Regions from separate parts of the Homo sapiens genome. Here all the other regions are linked to region 2. The links come from fine-mapping of genetic effects on gene expression. A gene starts in region 2. Each other region holds a variant in brackets. All regions are shown on one strand. Distances are from middle to middle.

Evidence for each region.
Region 1: its variant is fine-mapped to the expression of WDSUB1 in whole blood (TOPMed, PIP above 0.99). The same link has a PIP of 0.9 or more in blood mononuclear cells, monocytes, monocytes after LPS, nasal epithelium, nucleus accumbens and sun-exposed skin.
Region 3: its variant is fine-mapped to the expression of WDSUB1 in whole blood (TOPMed, PIP above 0.99).

Annotation. Positions count from the first base shown.
Region 1 is chr2:159,251,032-159,259,495 of GRCh38, forward strand. It overlaps WDSUB1 (WD repeat, sterile alpha motif and U-box domain containing 1), which reads right to left. Exons shown (of 11, transcript NM_001128212.3): 7 at 6,914-6,954; 8 at 6,727-6,833; 9 at 5,165-5,344. Among named protein-coding and RNA genes, the nearest start is that of WDSUB1, 31 kb to the right of the region's middle. RefSeq lists a silencer at 6,067-6,235. The variant C/G (reference allele first, on the strand shown) is at 3,523.
Region 2 is chr2:159,283,534-159,291,997 of GRCh38, forward strand. It overlaps WDSUB1 (WD repeat, sterile alpha motif and U-box domain containing 1), which reads right to left and starts at 3,170. Exons shown (of 11, transcript NM_001128212.3): 1 at 3,050-3,170. RefSeq lists silencers at 3,004-3,443, 3,130-3,299.
Region 3 is chr2:159,358,896-159,367,359 of GRCh38, forward strand. The region is part of intron 27 of BAZ2B (bromodomain adjacent to zinc finger domain 2B); the gene reads right to left. Among named protein-coding and RNA genes, the nearest start is that of WDSUB1, 76 kb to the left of the region's middle. The variant C/T (reference allele first, on the strand shown) is at 4,275.

The DNA.
Region 1 (8,464 bases), 33 kb before region 2:
GTGGGAGCACTGCTTAAGACCAGGAGTTTGAGACCAGCCTGGGCAACATAGCAAGACTCTTTCTCTACAAAAAAAATTTTAAAAATTAGCTGGGCATGGTGGTGCATACCTGTAGTCCCAGCTCCTCAGGAGGCTGAGGCAGGAGAATCTACAGAGCCCAAGAGGTAGAGGCTACAGTGAGCCATGTTCATGCCACTGCACTCCAGCCCGGGCAACAGAGTGAGACTCTGTCTCAAAAAAAAATTAAGAAAAAGAAAAAAATATAGGAGCAACTAATATTCTTTAAAAAGTATATTTTCCTGTCAAAAATATTCTACATGTGTGCTAATACTTACAATGCTTCTAGTATTTATAACAGAGAACACAGAAGGCCTAATTCAAAATTCCCCAGAGAAGGTTAAATTGGGCATTATCCTTCTCCAATCCTAACGTCATTTAGAAATGAAGTCAGATCATCTTGCCCTCAGGGAAGCGTTTACTAAACCACATCCCCAGAGCTCTACCGGAACCAAACATCTCCTTTTGTGATTGGGAGTTAAGAATAAGTCTTATACACTTAATTGCTGAGAAAGAAAGGACCCTTACCAGCTAAGGGCTAGTAAACCCTCGGTACCAGTATTGGGCAATATCTGGCTATTACTGACTATAATCCTGAAAAGACATCTTGATGACAAGTTAAAATCACCCAACTCTGGAAATGCTACATCACTGAGAGTTTGATGGAATCTAGACACTAATAACCATCAAATATACAAAACTAAACTAACGGATATAAAAACTCAACCCCAAAAACCTCTGACGAAACAGAAGGTAACGGGGTTCCGGAGTGAGAGCTGGGAAATGACAGCATAGAGCAGAGATGTGGGTACATGAATGAGACAGAGACCTTCCTACGTGTGCCCTTTACTCTCCCAACTTTGTCCTGTAAGTACCGATGCCACAGCAGCCCCAGCTGGAGGCCAGTTACCAAGACAGCACGAGAGCCTGGAATTGAACAAGCACAGACCACCAAGCTGGTCACTGACTCACCTCTCCCCTACCCTGACAGAGAACAACAGAACCAAATGCTGGTTTCTTACGAAGAAAGCTAAAAATCTGCTTTTTAAAAATTAAAAATTAATTTAAAAAATCAAATTTCTACATAGAATGATCAAGAGAAGACACGAAACCTATATTAAGAATGGAAAACACAGCTATAGATACATGAGGAATTTTTAAGAGGGTATGAAGAACAGGATAGAAGCAGTATAGTTTTTAAATTTCTCTGAAAAAACAGCAACCAGATAAACTCAAATTGCATGGACATTTCCAACAAAACAAGATAGCAAGATATCTTCATGAACCCTACAATATACGTGAGTGAGGACAAGCCATTAACAGCCATAAAGACCTGTGGTTGGCATCTGTGTAGAAGAAAGCAACAGGACATCTGATGGGCCTGAGCAAATGAGACCCCAGCATGTCCAACAAGTAAGCACTGGAAGGGAGAGTGGGCCAACTTCAGACAGCAGCTGACCAGGGAGGGTTATGCCCTTTCAACAGGGGGTCATTGCACAGTAACTAGATTTGAACAGCCTATTTCACTTTAATCACATATAAACAACAACAAAAAAACTGTAAATGTTCAATTACTTAACAATAAATGCAGTTACATAGGCAACAAGTGAAATCTACATAACGAATTAATAAGAACCGAAACATGAAACTTTCAAAACCCGAGGATACTAAGACAGGTGATGTATTTAAATTTCTAGTTTTAATTTTAAATTAGAAAATGATAAAAATGTCTTATGTGCTTTTATGATTTCTTGGAAAGAAGAGCAAATGGAAGAGTGAACCCTTTGAAAAAAATCTCGTTCCCAATTAGGCATCTATGGTTGATAATTATCTGAATTTCATAAATACCAACATGATATACAATAGTTCCTTAGCATTTGTCATTTTAAGTTTCTATCATTTTATCTTCTATAGCAATTCCAAACTCCAAGATACGTAGCAATCTGCCGCATTCCCAAGGCCTAGATATAAACTGAGGCCAATGAGTAGCTAGATGGAAGCTGTGTGGCTAGTTAGTAGTAGACTCAACTCGTTGCGTAATATCACATCTAAAAGTGACTTTCCTACTCTTAACCTTTCACACTTTATGCCTTTTGAATGAGATATTAAATGTTATAGTAGTAGTCACAAATTCATAGCAAATGTCTTAAGACATATCCCTCTCAACATCAAGGATCTCTTGAACCTGTACTCTGTCCAGACATTCCTTATCCAAATATAGTTCTAGATATAAGGAATTATTTCCTAACTAAAGCTGTACGTCTATTGTACCCTAGGCTTCCATTAACACAATCCTAGAAAATGACTATTATCCTTGGGTAAAGCTCCAAAGTCAAACATACTCAAGTCTGCAGAAATTTCATTTATTGTGTATTTACAAAAGACTCATTGAAAAAAGATTTGATAAACTGCTCAATTCCTTAAAAATAATTTAAATGTCAAACATAATAGATATACGACTTTGGTCTCAAACCCTCCAATGTACTTTACTGTACAATTAATCAACTTCCTCCATTTGCTGAATGTTAAACTCAGATTTATTCACATTGACATGGCAGCTGTTTTAAACAGTTATATCACAAAGGCAAACGCAGGTAAAATAGATATGCATTAAAAAAGCAAAATTCAATAGCATATATACTCATTGGTTCACCTCAACATATTTGTTTCTAGACCAAATTTAATTCTCTATTAGTGCAATTTACTATTTTGAGGTCTATTTTTCTTAAAATTCAGGACTAAAAGAAATTCATTGTAGCTTACAATACCATTTATAGAAGATTAAAGTTAGCCACTTGATCCTTTATAATGAAGGTTGCAAAAACCTTAAAATACATTAGAATGACATAAAAAATAAATGTTACAGTCAATTTTTACTACTTTATTCTAATTTGTTGAGTTTGCTAGATCTCCATATCTTAAACACAAGCCTAAGAGTCCTTATTTACTAGAGAATGTGCAACATTTTTGTCTCCATTCTTAATGGTTTTTCAAATTCACCTATTAGACCATCACAGAACTTGTTTAAACTGTATTTCAATTTTGGCTTGGGCCTGACACTTCCAAAACCCATTTCACTGAACTTTGAAGTAAAATGATTACTACTGCTAAACCTGAGACTCATCCTTCAAAAACTAATTGAATCATTAATTGATCATTAATTGAATCCTACAAGAATGTCTTATTCTTGGCCAGGCACAGTGGCTCATGCCTGTAATCCTAGCACATTGGGAGGCCGAGCTGGGAGGGTCACTTAAGGTCAGGAGTTTGAGACCAGCCTGGGCAAAGTAGTGAGACCTCATCTCTACAAATAATTTTAAAAATTAGCCAGGCATGGTGGCACATGCCTGTGGTTCCAGCTACTCACGAGGCCGAGGTAGGAGGATCACTTGAGCCTAGGAGGTTGAAGCTGCAGTGAGGCATGACCATGCCAGAGGACTCCAGCCTGGGCAACAGAGGGAGACC[C/G]TGTCTCAAACAAAAAACTAGAATGCCTTATTTACCTAGTTATAAAAATAGAATTGTATTTCTATTGTTTCTATATGCTTTTCTTATGTTTTCAAACATCCTTTGTTGAATCTGAAATTATTTCATATTGTGAAGTAATTCTACTTGATAAGGTACCCTTAAGATTAATTGTGAGAGATTAACAAGAAATTAAGATGCTAAATTTGTGAGTTTTTTTTAAAAACAAAGCCCCTACTCTATTACCTACTCTCAGAAGAAAGAGGAAGTTGAAAGGAAATGTTTTATTACAGAGAGATGCTGGGTGCAGTGGCTCATGCCCATAATCCCAACACTTTGGGAGGCCAAGGCTGGAGGACTGCTTGACCCCAGCAGTTTAAGACCAGCCTGGGCAATAGAGAGACCTCATCTCTACAAAAATTTGTAAAAATAAGCTGGGCGTGGTAGCATGTGCATGTGGTCCCAATTACTTGGGAGGCTGAGACAGGAAGACCACTTGAGCCTGGGAGGTCGAGGCTGTAGTGAGCTGTGATCGCACCACTGCACTCCAGCCTGGGCAACAGAGTGAGACCCTCCTATCTCTTCCCCCACCCTGCCACCCCCACACAAAAAGAGATAGAAAAGTGACTGTACTTGGCCAGGCACGGTGGCTCAGGTCTGTAATCCCAGCACTTTGGGAGGCTGAGGCAGGCGGATCACAAGGTCAGGAGATCAAGACCATCCTGGCTAACATGGTGAAACCCTGTCTTTACTAAAAATATAAAAAATTAGCCAGGCATGGTGGCAGGCGCCTGTAGTCCCAGCTACTCGGGAGGCTGAGGCAGAAGAATGGTGTGAACCTGGGAGGCGGAGCTTGCAGTGAACCGAGATCGCGCCACTGCACACCGGCCTGGGTGACAGAGCGAGACTCCATCTCAAAAATAAATAAATAAAATAAATTAAATTAAATTAAATAAAGAAAAGTGACTGTACTCAAGTATAGCCTGAGTATAGTACAAAACCACTTATGTGTTTTCACAAAATCATTCTGTTAACTCCTTAAAAGGCCATAGGCTTCCAAGAGATTTAAATAGGCTCACGTACTATGTTTACTATGTAAGGAAAGTAAAATACTTATAATACTATACTTTAAAATGGTTTTCTATAACAAAGATTTTTAGTTATTTCACTCTTCATTAGTAATAAATCTCAACATGAATATCTTATTTCCTGAGCTTTCTGGTTAACTAAAATTTTACTATAGCATATTAGTAATAGTGTCTGGCAATTATGTTTATTAGAGCATGATATCAAAACTTGTTTTTGGTAAAGATCTAGTACCCAGAATACATAAACAACTCTTACAAAGTCAACAATAAAAAGACAACCCAGTTTAAAAATGGGCAATGGATCTGATCAGACATTTCTCCAAAGAAGATATATAAATGGCAAATAAGCACATGAAAGATGCATGTCATTAGGTAAATGAAAATCAAAACCATAATGAAATTCCACTTCACAGCTGCTAGGATGGCCATAATCAAGAAGATGGGTCATTAGTGTAGTGCCAGAACATTAAGAAGAAACCATTAATGCAACAAAATCCAACTGCAGAGTAATTTGGTAAAAGTTGTTTTGAAGATTGCCTATCTTTCACTAAGCTTACCAATTTTCAAATCATCAGCCAGACTTTCTTTTGTAAGATTCAACAGTTCTTTTCCATCAATGTTATTCATCTTGAAAATACCAACAAGATCTTTTAAATCTTGTGCACAAAGCCATGTTGAGACATCCTCCTCTGACCAATCTTCGGTAAATTGCTTCAGCTGATGTTCTGTGCGCCTTGCTTAAAATAAACAAACAAGTAAGTGAGATAACAAAAAAGTATTTCCTTTATAAACATTCTCACTTTGAATTAAAAGTAAATGAAATTTCCTTAAATCTGTGTTTTATAGCTAGGTACAGTGGCTCATGCCTATAATCCTAGCTTCTCAAGTGGCTGAGGCAGGAGGATCACTTGAAGTCAGGAGTTCAAGACCGGCCTAAGTAACATAGGGAGACCAGTCTCAAAAAAAAAAAAAAAATTGTTTTACCACTTTAACTTGCTTTTGGATCATTTTCTTTTTCACATCAGGAAAACAATTTTTTATTATATAAAATTCATACCAGCAAAGGTATTCTATTTGCTCCATCATCTGCATATCAGCACCACTATTTAGATAATTCTGACAGTGATAAAAATAAAACTCCTAAATTATGTGCCAATGTCGCTTGATGCCAAAATAAAACCAACAAAATACAACGATAATTTCGATTTTGTCCTGAGGTTATATTTACCTGAAAAATTAGTATGGAGTATAAACAAATAACTTAGAAACCATGGGAGGAGTGGGACACATGAATGTGCACTGAAAGCATTTACCAACAGCTTTAACACAGCCCAGCCACTTCAACACTGGCTTCTGTAAAATTATTATTATTATTTTAGAGATGAGTTCTCACTCCCTTGCCCAGGCTGAAGTACAGTGGCGTGTTCTCAGCTCACTGCAGCCTCATGACCTCCTGGGCTCAGGTGATCCTTCCCACCTCAGCATCCCAAGTAGCTGGGGCCACAAGTGCACACCCCCATGTGTGGCTAATTTTTGTCTTTTTTGTAGAGATGGGGTTTCACCATGTTGCCCAAGCTAATCTCAGACTCCTGGGCTCACGCAATCCATCCACCTCGGCCTCCCAAAGTGCTGGGATTATAAGTGTGAGCCACCATGCCAGGCCAAACTATTTTTAAATGACATTAAATTTGGATGTATACTTTATATTGATAAAAGCAATGTGAATAACCTGTCAAATGATTTACTAACTTTTTTTTTTTTTTTTGAGATGGAGTTTCACTCTTGTCGCCCAGGCTGGAGTGCAATGGCACGATCTCAGGTCACTGTAACCTCCGCCTCCCAGGTTCAAGCGATTCTCCTGCCTCAGCCTCCCGAGTAGCGGGGATTATAAGCATGCACCATCATGCTGAGCTACTTTTTTGTATTTTTAGTAGAGACAGGGTTTCACCATGTTGGCCAGGCTGGTCTCGAACTTCTGACCTCAAGTGATACACCCACCTTGGCCTCCCAAAGTGCTGGGATTACAGGTGTGAGCCGCGGTGCCCAGCCCGATTTACTAACTTTCTGACCCTAATGGTGAGTGGGGTTGAAATGAGTGAAAAATGATGTCCTTACTAACCTTGGCAAAGTGTTTCCAGGTCAAATTGCCAGATGTTCACTGTTTTGTCCATTGAACCAGTAGCAAGTAAAAGGGTATTAGGTGCAAAAGCACAAGTTGTGACATACCTAGTTAATAAAAACAACTATTATGTATCTTCTGACTAATTTTTAAATTATATTAATACAAGGTGAGGTTAAGTTCAGACCTGGTGTGCTGAGTCAATGTGTGAAGTATATTCTCAGTATTCTGAAAAACAATAAAAACAGCTTTAAATTTACTCAAGTAAGAGTAAAGTTACTGATGAAGACTCATTTGACATAAATGGGTTGTATACTAAGTGGATATATTAATATTTATTAGTAACTAACATAAGTTGAAACTTTACTCAATGAATAGCAGAAACAGCATCTGTAACAGCATTCTCAGGTACTTACTTCACTTTTTGTCAATTATCGGCATTATTGTCTGCTAGCCACCTCCTTAGAAATTTTTAGTACAGTAGACCCTTGGCATTTGCTCATCTGTTTGAACCTACTAATAGTAACCTAAACATCTATTACCTGAAATAATTCATATTTTTGACTATGGCATTTGACTTGTATACATTGCAGGACCAGTGAGTAGAAATTAGTCCCTTGGCCGGGTGCAGTGGCTCACACCTATAATCCCAGCATGTCGGGAGGCCGAGGCAGGTGGATCACTTGAGCTCAGGAGTTTGAGACCAGCCTGGCCAACACGGTGAAACCCCATCCCTATTAAAAATATAAAATATTAGCTGGCATGGTGGCACGTGCCTGTAGTCCCAGCTACTTGGGAGGCTAAGGCAGGAGAATTGCTTGAACCCGGGAGGCAGAGGTTGCAGTGAGCCAAGATCGCACCACTGCACTACGGCCTGGGCAAAGGAGCAAGAGTCTGTCTCAAAAAAACAAATAAATAAATTAGTCCCTTAGAGTACACTAAGGTGTCCATCTAACATTTTAGGTGTATTTAAGTGGGACTCATACATATTTTACAGAGACAATTTAGTGTTATAATTGTTTTTGAGAATGTAAAATCTCATGAAACGTTCATGAGAAATATTAAAGATTTACCTCACCTAGCTTGAGTATTCTTTCCCATTTCCTGCCAGAACACTCAGTGACTCGAACTTCTGTGTGGAAGACTAGCTTACATCACTTGCTTAACTCGCTACCCTTTGATTACTTATATCTCCATTTATTTGCTGGCATAGCTACAGCATTAGGAGGCTCCACTCAACATTTTCTTCTTTTGGACAATATTTTTTTCAACTACTTTATTTTTGAGACAGGGTCTCACTCTGTTGCCCAGGCTGGAGTGCAGTGGCACAATCTCGGCTCACTGCAACCTCCACCTCCGGGGTTCAAGCCATCCTCTTGCCTCAGACTCCCAAGTAGCTGGGACTACAGGGACGCGCCACCACGGTCAGCTAAGTTTTTGTATTTTTGGTAGAGATGAGGTTTCACCATGTTGGCCAGGCTGGTCTTAAACTCCTGGACTCAAGCCATCTGCCTGCTTCAGCCTTCTGACATGCTGGGATTACAGGTGTGAGCCACTGCACCCGGCCACAACTTGGTCTTTACCCACACATGGATCAGTAAAAAACTCCCATTTTCCAAGTCCATGATAACCTATCCTTTCTTATGCCTCTCCCTAAATCCAGCCAGGACTCTAAGAATGGTAGGTCACTTTCAACCATATTCACCAAAAACCCTAGGGTAAACATTCATCCTTTGCT
Region 2 (8,464 bases):
ACTCCAGCTTGGGTGACAGAGCGAAACTCCATCTCTAGAGTTCTAGAAAATAGAGTATTTTCTATTCTAATAAACTATCTTAGCTGTTCCCTTCACAGGATGGAGCCAAGGCTATCTGCTCCGCCTTCAAAAAAAAAAAAAGAAAAAAAATCTAACACTGCAGCTGATCTGACAAGAGGTGGAGCTCACTCATGCCCTCACCTCCTGCTGTGCAGCCCAGTTCCTAACAGGCCATGATGGGTACCAGTCCTCGGCCCTGGGGGTTGGGGATCTATGTTTTGTTTTTGTTTTGTTTTGTTGAGACAGGATCTCCCTCTGTCATCCAAGCTTGAGTGCAGTGGCATGTTCTCAGGTCACTGCAACTCCCGCCTCGCGGGTTCAAGTGATTCTCCCACCTCAGCCTCCCAAGTAGCTGGGATTACAGGCATGTCCCACCACGCCCGGCTAATTTTTTGTATTTTTAGTAGAGACCGGGTTTCCCCATGTTGGCCAGGTCTTGAACTCCTGGCCTCAAGTGATCCGCCCACCTCAGCCTCCCAAAGTGCTGGGATAACCAGCGTGAGCCACCGTACCCGGCCAAGGGAGCTCTGTTTTAAAGGACAACCTGTTACCTGGGATAAGAACAATTTGGAGAAAAAAAAATCTATAAGACTATAACCTCTGATTCTCACAACCACCGTTGTCATACCAATAAATTTCCACAACTCCTCAAAAAGAACCTTCAAACTGTCAAATAACTTCAAACTGATTTGATGTTGAGCTTTCAAAACCTAAGGTGTTTATTTCACCTTTGAAGCCTTTCTCATAAGGAGTTCTCAAAAATACCTCACTCCAGATCTGCTCATCTCAACTCAAAAAGTATTTTCTATTCTAATAAACTATCTTAGCTGTTCCCTTCACAGGATGGAGCCAAGGCTATCTGCTCCGCCTTTAAAATCAAACTGTAGGATTTGCTCTTAAAAAAAAACAACAAAAGTCTCATTGAAAATTTATTAATAAGTGACCATGTTGAAAGCTGTCCTATCATGGTTTGTCATCCTGTCTGATAAATAGTAAAATTATACAAAAGACTTGAGGTGAGGAACCACCTCTGAATGAATCAAGGAAACCAAGAAAAGAAAACCTAAGAAAGTGTCAAAAAATGAACTTAGCCAGACCACGCTCAAGAACAAATTTACAAATTTAGAATAAAATCAAACTCATCATGGCAAACAAAATCCTATACAGTCTTATGTAATCAAAATCCTATATAATTCCCGCCTGCCCACTTCTCAGATCTCAACTCTGGCCACTGTCCCTCTCTTCTTTCCAGCCTCCTTGGCCTAACAGTCTTCCGTCTCCATAAAGCGGTTTTCTCAAGCTGAAATGTTCTTGCCTCTGCTCTTGGGATCCTATTTGTCATTTAGATCTCAATTTCAGTGTCTCTCCTCAGAGACGGTTTCCCTATTTAAAGTAGCCACTCCCTAGGCTAGCACATCACTCTATATTCTCAGCAATTACCACCAGCATCGGATATTTGTTAAATTGTCTCCTCCGACTAGGATGTAAATCCCAAAGGAGTAGGTACTTTGCCATCTTGCTCATTTCTGTATCCACACCATGTAAAACTGTCAGGCACCTAATGTACTTAAATAAATATAAGTTGAATATTTATTTTGTTCGAGCCCAACTGAGTTCCAGCCTTTAAATAATCCATATGTAATATGAAATTAGAAAATCTACCAAGACTAAATATATATACACACACAGAAACATAACTGACGGTGGAAAACTGGTGTCAAGTGAGGCAGAATCAGCTCTGAAAGGGGCAGGTATAACCTTGACTTGTAAAATTGATAATCCTTTGTCCTAGTCTTATTTACGGAAACACCTCTACCAAAGAAAAAAAAAGTCTGGGCGCGATGGTGCACACCTGTAGTCCCAGCATTTTGGGAGGCCGAGATGGGTGGAACACTTGAGCCCAAGAGTTTAAGACCAGTCTGGGCAACAAGGCAAGACCCCATCTCTCTAAAAATAAAAATAATTAGCTGGGTGTGGTGGCGAGCACCTGTAGTCCCAGCTACTCGAGAAGCTGAGGCGGGAGCATCACTTGAGCCCCGGAGGTGACGCCGGCGGTGAGCTGTGATTGCACCACTGCACTCTAGCCTGGGCAACAGAGCAGGACCCCATCAATCAATCAAACAAATATTAAGGCATAAGGAGCATGCCTTTCCCTATCTTCATCTTATCCTTTTAGGATAAGTTCAGCTTCTTTTCTTCGAACATAAACTCCAATAAAGCCTAAAAACCAAACACGAAAATTTCTGGTAGACTATCCCTGTACTGCTGTCTTGAAAACAATCAAGACCAGGTGGTGCTTTCTGGAGAGCTCGCAAATCCCAGCTGTGCAAGTGCGCACAGGTGATTTTCCAAACAAACTCCGGCTCCCAGCCCTCTGCCGCACTCAGCTCCCTTTGCAAGTTCCAGGGCATTCAGTGGGAAGTACCGAGGCCACCGTCAGCTGAACAGTTTGTTTTGAAAAAGCTCTCAGGCCTACCCAGGACCTGCCTTGGGGTAGGGGGGGCGGTGTGGGCGTTCCCTCGGGCCTCGGCTGTCACGCGAACAGTAAATTCCCGGGCACACCAGGTCAGTTGGCCAGCGTAAACACATGAATCCCATCTCATTCAAAGCAAACCCGAAAGGTGTCCAGCGCTCCCAAAATAAAGTCCGCCACTTACACCCCCCATGCACGAAAGACCAGGAATGTGCCCCCCTCTATGAGCGGCCGGGCCTCTGTGGACTGAGCGACCCCAGGCAAGAGGGAGGCCTGGGAGGCAGGGAGCTCACCCGCAAGGGGCTTCCTTCCACCCGACGCCGACACGCCCGCCCTAGCCCCGGGCCAAGGGTGCACGAACCACGCCTCGCCGCACTCAAGGTCCCGGTTGGGCCCTGCTGCGCGGTTAGAACCGGGAAATGGAGGGCTCAGACGCCCCGCGCGAGCAGGCCCAGCCGCGCTTCCCCACCTGCCGCCACCGCCGCTGAGCCGGCCCGTGGGCGCGGCCGCTCTCACCTGCAGGAGCGGGGGCGCGCGGGATCCGCCTTCAAGGTGCCCACGGGCGGTGCGGGTCACGTGCCGCGCAGGTGAGGCTGGCGGGGCGGGCGCCGGCGGAGACCCAGAGCAGAGGGAACAGGCCCCGCCCCCGAACGCCCGCGGGGACCCAGAGCGGAGGGAACAGGCCCCGCCCCCCGAACGCCCGCTGTGACCCAGAGCGGAGGGAGTAGGCCCCGCCCCGCGAAAGCCTGTGGAGACCCAGGGCGGAGGGAACAGGCCCCGCCCCCGGGACCGGCCCCTGAGGCGGCGCATGCGCGCTCTTCCGCCCGGACTGCGAGTTCCTCCCCAGCTTCTGGCTCCTAGGGTCAAGGCGATTTCAGGCTTGGAAAGGGACTTCCGTCGCAAATCTTTCTGTTTTTGCTAAAGCTGCGGTCGCAAGGCCTAGTGATCGCCTGAAACGTCGTTTTAAAGGGGCGTTGCATGGAATGTTCGGCCATCCCTGCTGAAAGTTTTTACCTCTTTCTCCAGTTCTCCACCCTGCACTGTGTACTCCGAGGCCGGTCTCCCAGATTGGCCTTCTCTATTTCGGCCACCCTGGGCGGTCCGTGACTTGGCGTCTTCTGCCCTCGCCTCCTCATTCGGGTTCCCCTAGGGGTCTCTCCCGGGCAGGCTGCCTGCCCCGGGCCCCAGCCCTGCCGTTGGGTGGGTATCCTGAGCTCACTGGAACCCCGGGCGCCTTTTCTTCAGCCTTTCCCAGTGCGTCCCACTGGCTCACGGTAGACTGGTTTCCACGTGTCATTGACTACAAAGTGGCCCTGCCAGTGCTTTTTGAGATAAAAATTATCCAGAAAAAAAAAAGTTCCTGAGCAAATTACCACTTGTTAACTAAATGCACAACATAGTGTGGGACTATGTTCAGATGAAAATCAAAGATACAGAGAGCTTTTATTTTTAATCCATGAGGAAACATTAAAAATATATCAGCCTGTGGAGACCGAAGTTACATTTGAAGAGTAATGACCTAAAATGCTCACATTTAAAGATGAAATTGAGACCGTGGGAAACTATTTGCAATGAAAAAGATTAAGGGGAAAGGGAAGATTAAAAATTAGGATTTTGTGAAGTTCTTGTTAATTTTTTAAAATTAGCGGAGTGCATCATGATTGAGACTTTGAACACCAAATTCCATTCCAAAGTATTGCCAAAACAGTATTTTTCTAAAAACAAGTTTTTGATTGTATAAATAATAGAGCTCTCTGTAGGAAACACAGAATATATAACAGGAAAATAAATAGTCAATAATTACACCCCTCAGAGATCACCCACTCAGAGATAACATTTTCTCTCAGTCTTTCAGAAAAACTAATTTTACAAAAAGTCCTGGAAACTGCCTTTTTAAACAAACTTGTGTCATGAGCTGTTCCCATGTCTAAAATTTCATTAGCTTTTTTTTCTACATAATGGTCTACATATAAACATACCATAAATTATTTAACATTTTCCCTGTTGCTGGATGGTTTCAACAATTTTGATCTTAGTGTAGATAATGCTGGATTAAATATCTTTGTACCTAAATCTTTTTCTTTTAGCCTCAATATATTACCACGTTATGTACATAAATCTTTTTCCATATTTATGAATATGTACTTAGGATAAAAATTGAAATGGAGGCCAGGTGCGGTGGCTCACGCCTGTAATCCCAGCACTTTGGGAGGCCAAGCTGGGTGGATCACCTGAGGTCAGGAGTTCAAGACCAGCCTGGCCAACGTGGTGAAACCCCATCTCTACTAAAAATAGAAAAAAATTAGCCAGGCATGGTGGCACGCACCTGTAATCCCAGCTACTCAGGAGGCTGAGACAGGAGAATCTCTTGAACCCAGGAGGCTGAGGTTGCAGTGGGCAGAGATCTCCCCATTCCACTTCCAGTCTGGGGGATAGAGTGAGACTTTGTCTCACAAAAGAAAAAAAAGGAAATGGAATCACTGGGCATAAAGGTGTAGACAGTTTTAATAAGTATTACCATACTGCTCTTCAGAGAGGTTGTACAGTTTACACTCTCAGCAATATGTAGTTGTGTTTGTCTCTCCACTTTCTTGTCAAACTTGAGGGATACCTTTTTTATCTACACTAATTTGTGTGTGGGTTTTTTTGTTTGTTTGTGAGATGGAGTCTTGCTCTGTCGCCCAGGCTGGAATGCAGTGGCAGGATCTTGGCTCATTGCAACCTCTACCTCCCAGGTTCAAGTGATTCTCGTGCCTCAGACTCCCAAGTAGCTGGGATTACAGGCGCCCGCCACCGCGCCCGGCTGACTTTATGTATTTTTAGTAGAAACAGGGTTTCACCATGTTGGCCAGGCTGGTCTCGAACTCCTGACCTCAAGTTATCCACCCGCCTCAGCCTCTATCTACACTAATTTGATAAGCCAAATTGGTTATAATATTCTTTAAGTAAAATATATAAAAGAAGCCCGTGACTACACCTGCCAGTAGTTTAGCACCATGACCTCATGTCCAGTATAGTCAGCTTTGCCTGTCCTACAGAGACAGGCAGTTTCAAAGATAGAAGCCTCATTGAGGCTGGTCTCCAGAGATCTAACTACTTTAACACTCTGTCCTGTACCAGTTCACTCTACAAATCTATAAATTCTTATAAATGTATCTTTATAAATTCTGTTTCTATAGTATATTGGCAAGATATTTTAGTTAACATCTCCCAAAGTAGTTAGACCTTTGATTTGGAATATTAAAGATTTGAATGTTTTATGCATTCCTCACCCTAATTGTGTAGCTGTGAAAATCTTATTTAAGGCTGGGTGCGGTGGCTCACACCTGTAATCACAGCACTTTGGGAGGCCAAGGTGGGCAGATCATTTGAGGTCAGGAGTTCAAGACCAGCCTGGCCAACGTGGTGAAACCCCGTCTCTACTAAAAATACAAAAATTAGCCAGGCGTGGTGGTGCACACCTATAATACCCACTACTGAGGAGGCTGAGGCAGGAGAATTTCTTGAACCCGGGAGGCAGAGGTTGCAGTGAGCCGAGATCGAGCCACTGCACTCCAACCTTGGCAACAGAGTGAGACTGTGTCTTCAAAAAAAAGAAAATCTTATTTAAGGATAAAAATCCCATTTTGTCATTAATTTCTTGTTCTGCTCCTTAAAATAATGCTACTTGAAGAATATAGAAAACAATTTTAAGTGATGTATTTAAAGAAAAACCACCTTTTCTTTTCTTTTTTTTTTGAGACGGAGCAAGCTCTGTCGCCCAGGCTGGAGTGCAGTGGTGCGATCTCGGCTCACTGCAAGCTCCACCCCTGGGTTCACGCCATTGCCCTGTCTCAGCCTCCCGAGTAGCTGGGACTGCAGGTGCCAGCCACCATGCCCGGCTAATTTTTTTATTTTTGATAGAGATGGGGTTTCACCATGTTAGCCAGGATGGTCTCGAATTCCTGACCTCATGATCTGCCCGCCTCTGCCTCCCAAAGTGCTGGGATTACAGGGGTGAGCCACCGCGGCCAACCAGAAAAACCAACTTTTCTTTTTTTTTTTTTTAATTTTATTATTATTATACTTTAAGTTTTAGGGTACATGTGCACAACGTGCAGGCTTGTTACATATGTATACATGTGCCATGTTGGTGTGCTGCACCCATTAACTCGTCATTTAGCATTAGGTATATCTCCTAATGCTATCCCTCCCCAACTTTTCAATTAAATAGTAAGCAATACATGTTGTCAAAATACAGTGGCAACGGGAACCGAATAGATGTGAAGCAATGAGTGAGCCACCAATTACTAAAATATGTGGTCCTGAGTAAACAAGAGCTTAACGGAGAGATGAGAGGCGCCTGTGAAGTTGGAAAAGGTGGGCATAAGAATGTGTGCTAACTAGACCTGAAGTCTAGGCCGGCTGAGGGGTGAGCTTTGGAAACACCCAGTTTCACAGGAAATACTCAGGCATGTATTGAGGTTGTTTTCCTTTGCAGGCAAACCCAATGTCAGAGTTTCCAGAACAGTTGGACAAGGTAGAGCTCAAGGTATAAAAACTCCCTTGAGGTGTTCAGTTTATGAAATTATATCAAGCTGAACGCATGAAATTTGCCTTTTTCTATGTGTATATTACACTGCAGAAGACGTTTTTAAAAACATCCTGGCAGATTGCCCAGAGATTATCTCATATCTGATGCAACCATCAACTCTCCACATCTGGTATGAGCCACAGTGCCACCTCCTTGTAGAGAACTCTGGGGAGCTGGAAAGCTGCAACTCTGCCTGGGAGCAAGATAACTTCTGCATCATAAAATGTTCTCTTAATTTGCTTTATCCTTTGCCACTATGTAAAATTTACACCTTCGAACTGGCCATCTTTTCATTAAACCATTCAGAGTCCCTGTGTGCCAACCCAGTAGTAAGAATTAGCAGAGTTCTTTAGAAACAACTGGAATTCCATACAGGAAAAAAGAAAGATCCAGGGGCTGCCTAACAACAAAACAGAGGGTTGGGATGAGATGGTGTATATTGGGCACAGTGAGAACTGCCTGACAGCAGAAAATATGCATATGGCTGGAAGTAAGAATACCAGAAAGAAATGTAATGACATGTATGAAACTTGGTATTTGGTACACACTAAAAAATTTTTTTGCAATTCTCACTGTGCCTTTTTCTGCCTTTATGGTACAAGAAATATTTTTTGCTTATGAAATTTTTATTTTGTTTTGTTGGTTTTGTTTTTGTTTTGTTTTCCAATTCCTGGGCTCAAGCGATCCTCCCACTTCAGCCTCCTGAGTAGCTGAGACTACAGGCGTGCAACACAAACCCCAGCTCATTTTTTGATTTTTATTTGTATAGAGACAGGGTCTCACTATGTTGCTGAGGCTGGTCTCAACTCCTGGGCCCAAGCAATCCTCCCCCCTTGGCCCCCCCACCAAAGTGCTGGGATTACAGGCATGAGCCACTCCGTGCCCAGCTTTTGTTTATGAAATTTTAAATTGCAGTTTACATTTTTTCATTTTCTTATTGTCTCATTTTCTCAAATTCTTTATTTTCAGATACTATTATTAATGTTCTTCAAGAGAATTCAAGATGTTAATGCATTTCTGAAAAAAATACTTTTGTTTCCAGATTTATGGTTTTTATTACATAAGGTAAAAATATTACAGATACGGAAAAATTAATTCATTCAACAATAATTCAATTTACAGAATTACAGATTATGTTTCCAGTTTACTGCCTATTATAGTCTGGAATACAGTATTTGATGCTACCAGTCTTTGGCATCTTGTAACATTCTGTCAATTAATTGGCCAAATAATGCTAGGTCTCCATTTTAACCTGATTATCTGGAATTAATATTTCTCCATATTTTCACTAATGACTTTCAAACTAGTTGACTGATTTTTGCCTAAAGAAAATCACGATACTTCTTTAGTTTTACTTT
Region 3 (8,464 bases), 75 kb after region 2:
AAGTTCTTTGAAACCAATGAGAACAAAGACACAACGTACCAGAATCTCTGGGACACAGCCAGAGATTTAGAGAGAAATTTATAGCACTAAATGCCTGCAACAGAAAGCAGGAAATATCTAAAATCGACACCCTAACATCACAATTAAAAGAACTGAGAGGCAAGAGCAAACACATTCAAAAGCTAGCAGAAGACAAGAAATAACTAAGATCAGAGCAGAACTAAAGGAGACAGAGACACAAAAGGCCCTTCAAAAAATCAATGAATCCAGGAGCTGGTTTTTTGAAAAGATCAACAAAATAGACAGACTGGTAGCCACACTAATAAAGGAGAAAAGAGAGAAGAATCAAATAGACACAATAAAACATGATAAAGTGGATATCACCACTGATCCCACAGAAATACAAACTACCATCAGAGAATACTAGAAACACCTCTACGCAAATAAACTAAAAATCTGGAAGAAATGGATAAATTCCGGGACACACACACCCTCCCAAGACTAAATCAGGAAGAAGTCCAATCCCTGAATAGACCAATAACAAGTTCTGAAACTGAGGCAATAATTAATAGCCTACCAGCCAAAAAAAGCTCAGGACCAGACAGATTCACAGCCGAATTCTACCAGAGGTACAAAAGCGAGCTGCTACCATTCCTTTTGAAACTATTCCCAACAATAGAAAAGGAGGGACTCCTTCCTAACTCATTTTATAAGGCCAGCGTCAATACCTGATACCAAAACCTGGCAGAAACACAAAAAAAGAAAATTTCAGGCCAATATCCCTGATGAACATCGATGCGAAAATTCTCAATAAAATACTGGCAAACTGAATCCAGCAGCATATCAAAAAGCTTATCTGCCCTGATCAAGTTGGCTTCATCACTGGGGTGCAAGGCTGTTTCAACACATGGAAATCAATAAATGTAATCCATCACATAAACAGGACCAATGACAAAACCCACATGATTCTCTCAATATATGCAGAAAAGGCCTTTGACAAAATTCAACAGCCCTTCATGCTAAAAACTCCCAATAAACTAGGTATTGATGGGAGGTATCTCAAAATAATAAGAGCTGTTTATGACAAACCCACGGCCAATATCATACAGAATGGGCAAAAGCTGGAAGCATTCCCTTTGAATACTGGCACAAGACAAGGATGCCCTTTCTTACCAATCCTATTCAACATAGTATTGGAAGTTCTGGCCGGGGCAATCAGGTAAAAGAATGAAATAAAGGTCATTCAAATAGGAAGAGAGGAAGTCAAATTGTCTCTGTTTGCAGATGACATGATTGTATATTTAGAAAATCCCATCGTCTCAGCCCAAAATCTCCTTAAGCTGGTAAGTTATTTCAGCAGTCTCAGGATACAAAATCAATGTGCAAAAATCACAAGCATTCCTATCCACCAATAATAGACAAACAGAGAGCCAAATCATGAGTGAACTCCCATTCACAATTGCTACAAAGAAAATAAAATACCTAGGAATCCAACTTACAAGGGATGTGAAGGACCTCTTCAAGGAGAACTATAAACCACTGCTCAAGGAAATAAGAGAGGACACAAACAAATGAAAAACATTCCATGCTCATGGATAGAAGAATCAATATTGTGAAAATGGCCATATTGCCCAAAGTAATTTATAGATTCAATGCTGTCCCCATCAAGCTACCACTTTCTTCACAGAATTAGAAAAAAACTACTTTAAATTTCATATGGAACCAAAAAAAGGTCCCATATAGCCAAGACAACCCTAAGCAGAAAGAACAAAGCTGGAGGCATCACACTACCTGACTTCAAACTATGCTACAAGGCTACAGTAACTAAAACAGTATGGTACTGGTACCAAAACAGATATATAGAACAGTGGAACAGAACAGAGGCCTCAGAAATAATGCCACACATCTACAACCATGTGATCTTTGACAAACCTGAGAAAAACAAGCAATGGGGAAAGGATTCCCTGTTTAATAAATGGTGTTGGGAAAACTGGCTAGTCATATGCAGAAAACTGAAACTGGACCCCTTCCTTACACCTTATACGAAAATTAACTCAAGATGGATTGAAGACTTAAACGTCAGACCTAAAACCATAAAAACCCTAGAACAAAACCTAGGCAATACCATTCAGGACATAGGCATGGGCAAGGACTTGGTAACTAAAACACTAAAAGCAATGGCAACAAAAGCCAAAATTGACAAATGGGATCTAATTAAACTAAAGAACTTCTGCACAGCAAAAGAAACTATCATCAGAGTGAACAGGCAGCTTACAGAATGGGAGAAGATTTTTGCAATCTAGCCATCTGACAAAGCGCTAGTATCCAGAATCTACAAAGAACTTAAACAAATTTACAAGAAAATATAAACAACCCCATCAAAAAGTGGGTGAAGGATATGAATAGACACTTCTCAAAAGAAGACATTGATGCAGCCAACAAACATATGAAAAAAAGCTCATCATCATGGGTCATTAGAGAAATGCAAATCAAAACCACAATGAGATACCATCTCATGCCAGTTAGAATGGCAATCATTAAAAAGTCAGGAAACAACAGATGCTGGCGAGGCTGTGGAGAAATAGGAACGCTTTTACACTGTTGGTGGTAGTGTACATTAGTTCAACCATTGTGGAAGACAGTGTGGTGATTCCTCAAGGATCTACAACCAGAAATACAATTTGACCCAGCAATCAATCCCATTACTGGGTATATATCCAAAGGATTATATATCATTCTACTATAAAGACACATGCACATGTATGTTTATTGCAGCACTGTTCACAATAGCAAAGACTTGGAACCAACTCAAATGCCCATAAATGATAGACTAGATAAAGAAAATGTGGCACATATACACCATGGAATACTATGCAGCCATAAAAAAGGATGAGTTCATGTCCTTTGCAGGGACATGGATGAAGCTGGAAACCATCATTCTTAGCAAACTAACACAGGAACAGAAAACCAAACACCACAAGTTCTCACTCATAAGTGGGCGTTGAACGATGAGAACACATGGACATAGGGAGGGGAACAACACACACTGGGGCCTGTCGGGGGGGTGAGGGTCTGGGGGAGGGATAGCATTAGGAGAAATACCTAATGTAGATGACGGGTTGATGGGTGCAGCAAACCACCATGGCAAGTGAATACCTATGTAACAAACCTGTATGTTCTACACTTGTATCTCAGAACTTAAAGTACAATGAAACAAAAGAAAACAAAACAAAAAACAAACAAATTAAAAAAAAACAGTGAACTGGACTGGAAAAAAAAATCCTTGGTTTTGGCTGGAAGGCCATAGGGGCTTTCTTCTTTCCCACTTCCCTGAGAGGCAGCAGCAGGTCAGAAGGCCTTCAGCTGAGGTCAACACTGTTCTCAGCGTCCTCCCTATGTAGACTTTGACCCTTGATATGCATATGTCCTAGCACTGTTTCTAAACCCAAAGGTCCCTTGATAATGTTTATCATTACTCAGAAATTAAGTGCTTTCTACTCTTTCTCACACTAATGCATACAGGGCAAGGTGTGGGGTACAGTGTTTCGTCTCTTGGAGTGCTCTTGCTGCATGTCCAAGTCCTGTGGAATCATTATGGAGGCTGGGAATCCTGTGTACGGTTACTTCTTTGCTTGTAGGTTACTCTCACTAACAAACTTTGCTGCTATTAGCACCATGTGTGTTAGTGGTTTGTGTAACCATCTTGTACTACAGTTGGTGCCCAACAAAGTCCCGATGTCATGGCTTTCTGAAAGAGGAGAACCCATGGGTCAAAGAATTTCTCCTGGGGACAGTGGTAATTCACTTGGCAGTTAGGATGGTCTCAGTAGCTACGCCTGAGAATGGCAGAAGCCCTCAAGTGGTAAAGAGGGTTTCCAGTGGCTTGAAATTAAGTTCTATCTCTTCTCCTTATCAGCTTAGAGATTTTCAGGAGTACAAATTGGTAGGGTGCACTAGAAAGGGTGTGGTAGTCTCTCTAGAAGGGAAGGTGGGGCAAATTCCCACTGTTTATCTGTAATATGAGGCAACTGGTCCTGCTGTATGTGAAGCCAGTTACTGTGAGGCACGGTGTACAGGAGCCTGAGTGAGAACACCAGCAGGAGGAGATCCAGCATTATACAGAGCAAGAGCAAGACTCTTATTAGCTCCACTACTGTAGGGATAGTAGAGGCTTGGCCTGCTAATTTGCATGGTTAGGAGACAACAGTGTTGTTAAGGGAAGCTGAGTAAAAGGAAACACATGACCTGGTTAAACAATGAGCAGTCTGGGTTGA[C/T]TAATAACACTGGGGCTGATGTTGTAACCCTGCTTCTAAACTGGATGCTTGGTAGCATGGGTAATACGTATTACCATTGGGGTGATTTTCCTGCCACTTGAATGTGAAATGGACTAGATCCACAGATAGTGTAGTTACTCTAACACACTCTGAGACAACTGGCTGTGTTAGCGTAATTATAAGAAAATCCAGGGTTTGAGTAGAGAATCCCTGACAACATGCTCTTGGTGCAGAGAATGTTGGATGACCGAATCAGAGCAGGTCCTCCTAAGTGGACAACTGCTTTGACTTATTCCTTCATCTGGGAGGCAATGTTGGACATGAAATAGTTCTTTTTAGGTCATACAAGCCCCACAGCAGAGGCGGAAATGGAAAGAGACAGGGTCTCATGAGATGCACAGGTTTCTGCCCAAAATATAAAGAAAGAAGGAACAAAAGAAGGAGTAGACCGATAGGCTGAACTCAGGCAATCTCCCTCACACCAATAAATGTGATATTGCTCATAAACAGAAGGAATGATAAGACAGAAATTGAGAGACGGCCTAATTCTTGAGTGTGGGAATGTAGTCCTATTCAAAAAGTTAAAAGACCCACTGAGACTGTGGAAAAGGGACATGTGAGATGAAACATGATACTGAATAGTTTACAGACTTGAATAATTATTGGGAGAGGTGGAGTCACCAGAAGATTAGGTGAAGAAGGTCCCTGGGGAGGACGAGGGCTATTGAGCTTCATCCACACAAACTGATAAGATCTAAAGGACATAGAGACAGGGAGATACTCTGCATTATCTTGACTCTGGAAGTGGCATTGCTGGTGGGAATGCTCCTAGTCATCAGCTCCACTTTGTGAGTTTGAGTCAACTCTAGAAGCCAAGCTTCTTTGTTCCTAATCTGAGCCCTTTCAAACTCAAGGAGAAATACAGGTGGGCTCAGTCCCCTTTACTCTCTTCCAAGGGATCCCTAACCATGTACCCCAGATGATTATGCTGGAAAAGAGAAGAGCCTCCAATATTTACGGGTTTGCTAGAAATGGAGGACCAAGTATCATAGCTCCAGACTGCAGAAGAGCTCTGGTAAACAAGTTCCTCAACTGGGGTTTGGAGTCCATGTTACCTATGGCTGAAAGATTAGAATTACAATCACTGCAACGGCTTTTGGACCTTTTGCGTGAATTCTAGTTGTTTCTTTATCAGGGTGGGGTAATTAAGTCCACATGTCAGTTGGACTTTTTTTCTTTTCGAGACAGGGTCTTGCTCTGTCCCCAAGGCTGAAGTGCTGTGATGCGATCGTGGCTCACTGCAGCCTCGAACTCCTGTGCTTAATTGATTCTGCCACCTTAAACTCCTAAGTAGCTGGAAGTATACCTGGCTAATTTTTCTGTAGAGATGGGGTTCCACCATGTTACCCAGGCTGGTCTTGAACTCCTGGGCTCAACTAATCCTCCCACCTCAGCTTCCCAAAGTGCTGGGATTACAGGTATAAGCCACCATGCCTAGCCCTTAGTTAGACATTTTTTGTGACTTCTGTTAGTAGCTTCTATAACTGTTGGCCAGGTATGTTGCCAAAACCCACCTGTACTTACAAGGTCGGCAGATGTTGTGTGACACTATACTTACAAGGTCGGCAGACGTTGTGTGACAGTGTTGCACACCTAGAGGTGAAACAGGTTGCATTTCTTATACAAGAACAGACTCAGGCAGGGGTACTGCACAACACCATTTCACAATTTAACAACCCCGTTTGCCTAACTCTGTTTGACACTAGTACTGCAAGTGATCTATGACTGGTCTCAGGCAGAGACTCTGATGGCATGTGTTAGTTTTTGGGTGTTTGATCTCCTCTAGCTAATGAATGGTATACACCTTTGGGGTTACTGTGTCTCCTGCATTTGCAGATAACATACATATTATCAAGACTTAGGTATATTATTATATATTGGGGTTTCTAGATATGATACAATTAAGCAATGAAAGTGCTTTCACAGCTGCTGGCATTCTACAATGGGACCATGTAGAATGGTATTGCCAACATGGTACTAAGTGGCTGTTCTAGGCTCGTTCTTAACCACGGGCAGTATAGAATGCTGGAATAGCATTCTGAAAGACAGCTGTACCCATCCTTTTAACAATGACTTCTATAAGATTGTCTGGTCCGGGTGACCTCTGCTGTTTATACTCATAAAGGTCCCTCCACTTTGGTGAAGTTCCTTGGCACCTGGGAGTCAAAAAGCAGAAACAGACGAAGAATCTACTTGGTATGCCAAGACCTGAGTTTTTACACCTCAATAGTTATTTCCTTTTGTTGTACCTGTCATAATTTCAACAGGTGGCTGGGAGGTTTGTGTGTTCATATTACAGACAAATGGATGGATACAAACTTGGATGCTCTCCTGACTTCCTGATGACACTGCTAGCTACACCTACAGAAGGGCAATTTTGATTCTCTCTTTATTCCAAACATTCTAAATTTCTGTTGTATGCTTATTCTGCAAGTGGGAGATTTTGCTGCAGTCTCTATACCCATATAGTATACTCTATCCACAGAGTTTCTCTGGTGAGAAAGTGCAACTCCTGCTTTCATGTGGAACTTACTGTTGCAGAAAGAAAGAACAGACCACATAGGTTGTCCTTAAAGATAATGATGGACTGTGCTTGGGCATAAACGTGCCTGACCAAAAAAAGTGAAAGTGTGGTTGGAGCATGAATAACTCTCTCTTCACCTTTCTTGCAGATATTAACAGACTGTACCAAATAATCCTCTGCAGCGATCCCACACAATGACAGTGCAAAGCTATCACAATGTGGGATTTGTTATGCTTAACATACTCAACTGTGGAGGACCTTCTGGAAATTCTACTCCCAGATAACACCATGGGAATTACTCCTACCTGGTATTAACCAGAGTTCTCATTTGCCCTGGCCCTCCATTAACTCTTCCCTTACTAGTCATGCTGTGTAAAACTCTACTCAACTTCTCAGGTGCAGAAAACACCTACTCTTACATCTCGGCTCCCAGTGGATCCATGCCCCACATTAGGAGAACCCCAAAGCAGCATAAAACTCTCAACCAAATACTTCCACTTCAGACCTGCAGTTGAGTCTAATAGCATGCCGACAGTGTGTTAACCCCAGAAAAACATAAATGCCAAGTGGATATAAAATGTAGCATTAAACCTCTGTAATCCAGTGGAACCTGTCGTCTTATGTGAAAGGCATGCTTACCCTGCCTCCCACCTGTAAATAACACTGCACATTTTGGAAGTACTATGAGACCTTTAATAGTGACTCAAAATCTAAGACACTGGTCACTTTTCCAGCTGTGGTCTCCAGGGCTAGCATTAGAGCCTATCTGCAGGTGTCAAGGATACAAGCTTTCATTACTTTGTACAAGGGCTCTTGCCTTGAATAGTCACCTACGAAGCTGAGGATATGACCAGCAATTGCTATCATGGGAAACGCTGCCATTGAGAAAGCCTGGGATCATATCACTGAAATTAGTATTGCTTCCTTGACATGAGTAATATTAGAGAATTGCATAGCTTTGGACTTTTTGTTGGATATGCAGCCAGATTGCTCATGGGAGCTCTGTATCTCCTAATGCTGTGGTATATTGTTTGTTTTAGAATTTCTCTGGCTATATGACTCTTTCAGCACTGTCAACAAACACTGAAGGCACCATTTAAAATCTAATTGCTTTCTATTGCAGATGGGGACGCATATATCTAGTGAGCCACACCAAGGGTCAGGGGGTGGACTGAGAAGGAATAAACCCTCAGTCTTAGCTAAATGGGCATGGGGGCTCTCTTCCTTCTCTTGTTCCCAAGACCCATCAGCAAACCTGCTTAGCCACCGAGCTGATGTGCAGAGGAACAGTAGGGTCTTTAGCTGCTGTTCTCAAAGTCCTTGGTTTGTAGATCCTGGTCCTTTGTAATGCAAACTCCCTAGTGTTGTTCCTAGGCCCAGAGGTCCTTTGAGATATATGTTGTTTCTTAGAATAATGAAGGACTTGGACTAACCTCGAAATATATAGTGGTATGAAGGCAGAGCCTTCTCTTTGAGTGATCTTGTTTCTTGTCCAGTCTCTAACTGGACAAGGCACACCCCTGTGGAACCACTGTAGGGGCTCAGAGATCCCCTGAGTGCTCTGTTACTTATCTGAAGTTATCATCACCAATAAACATTATTGTTA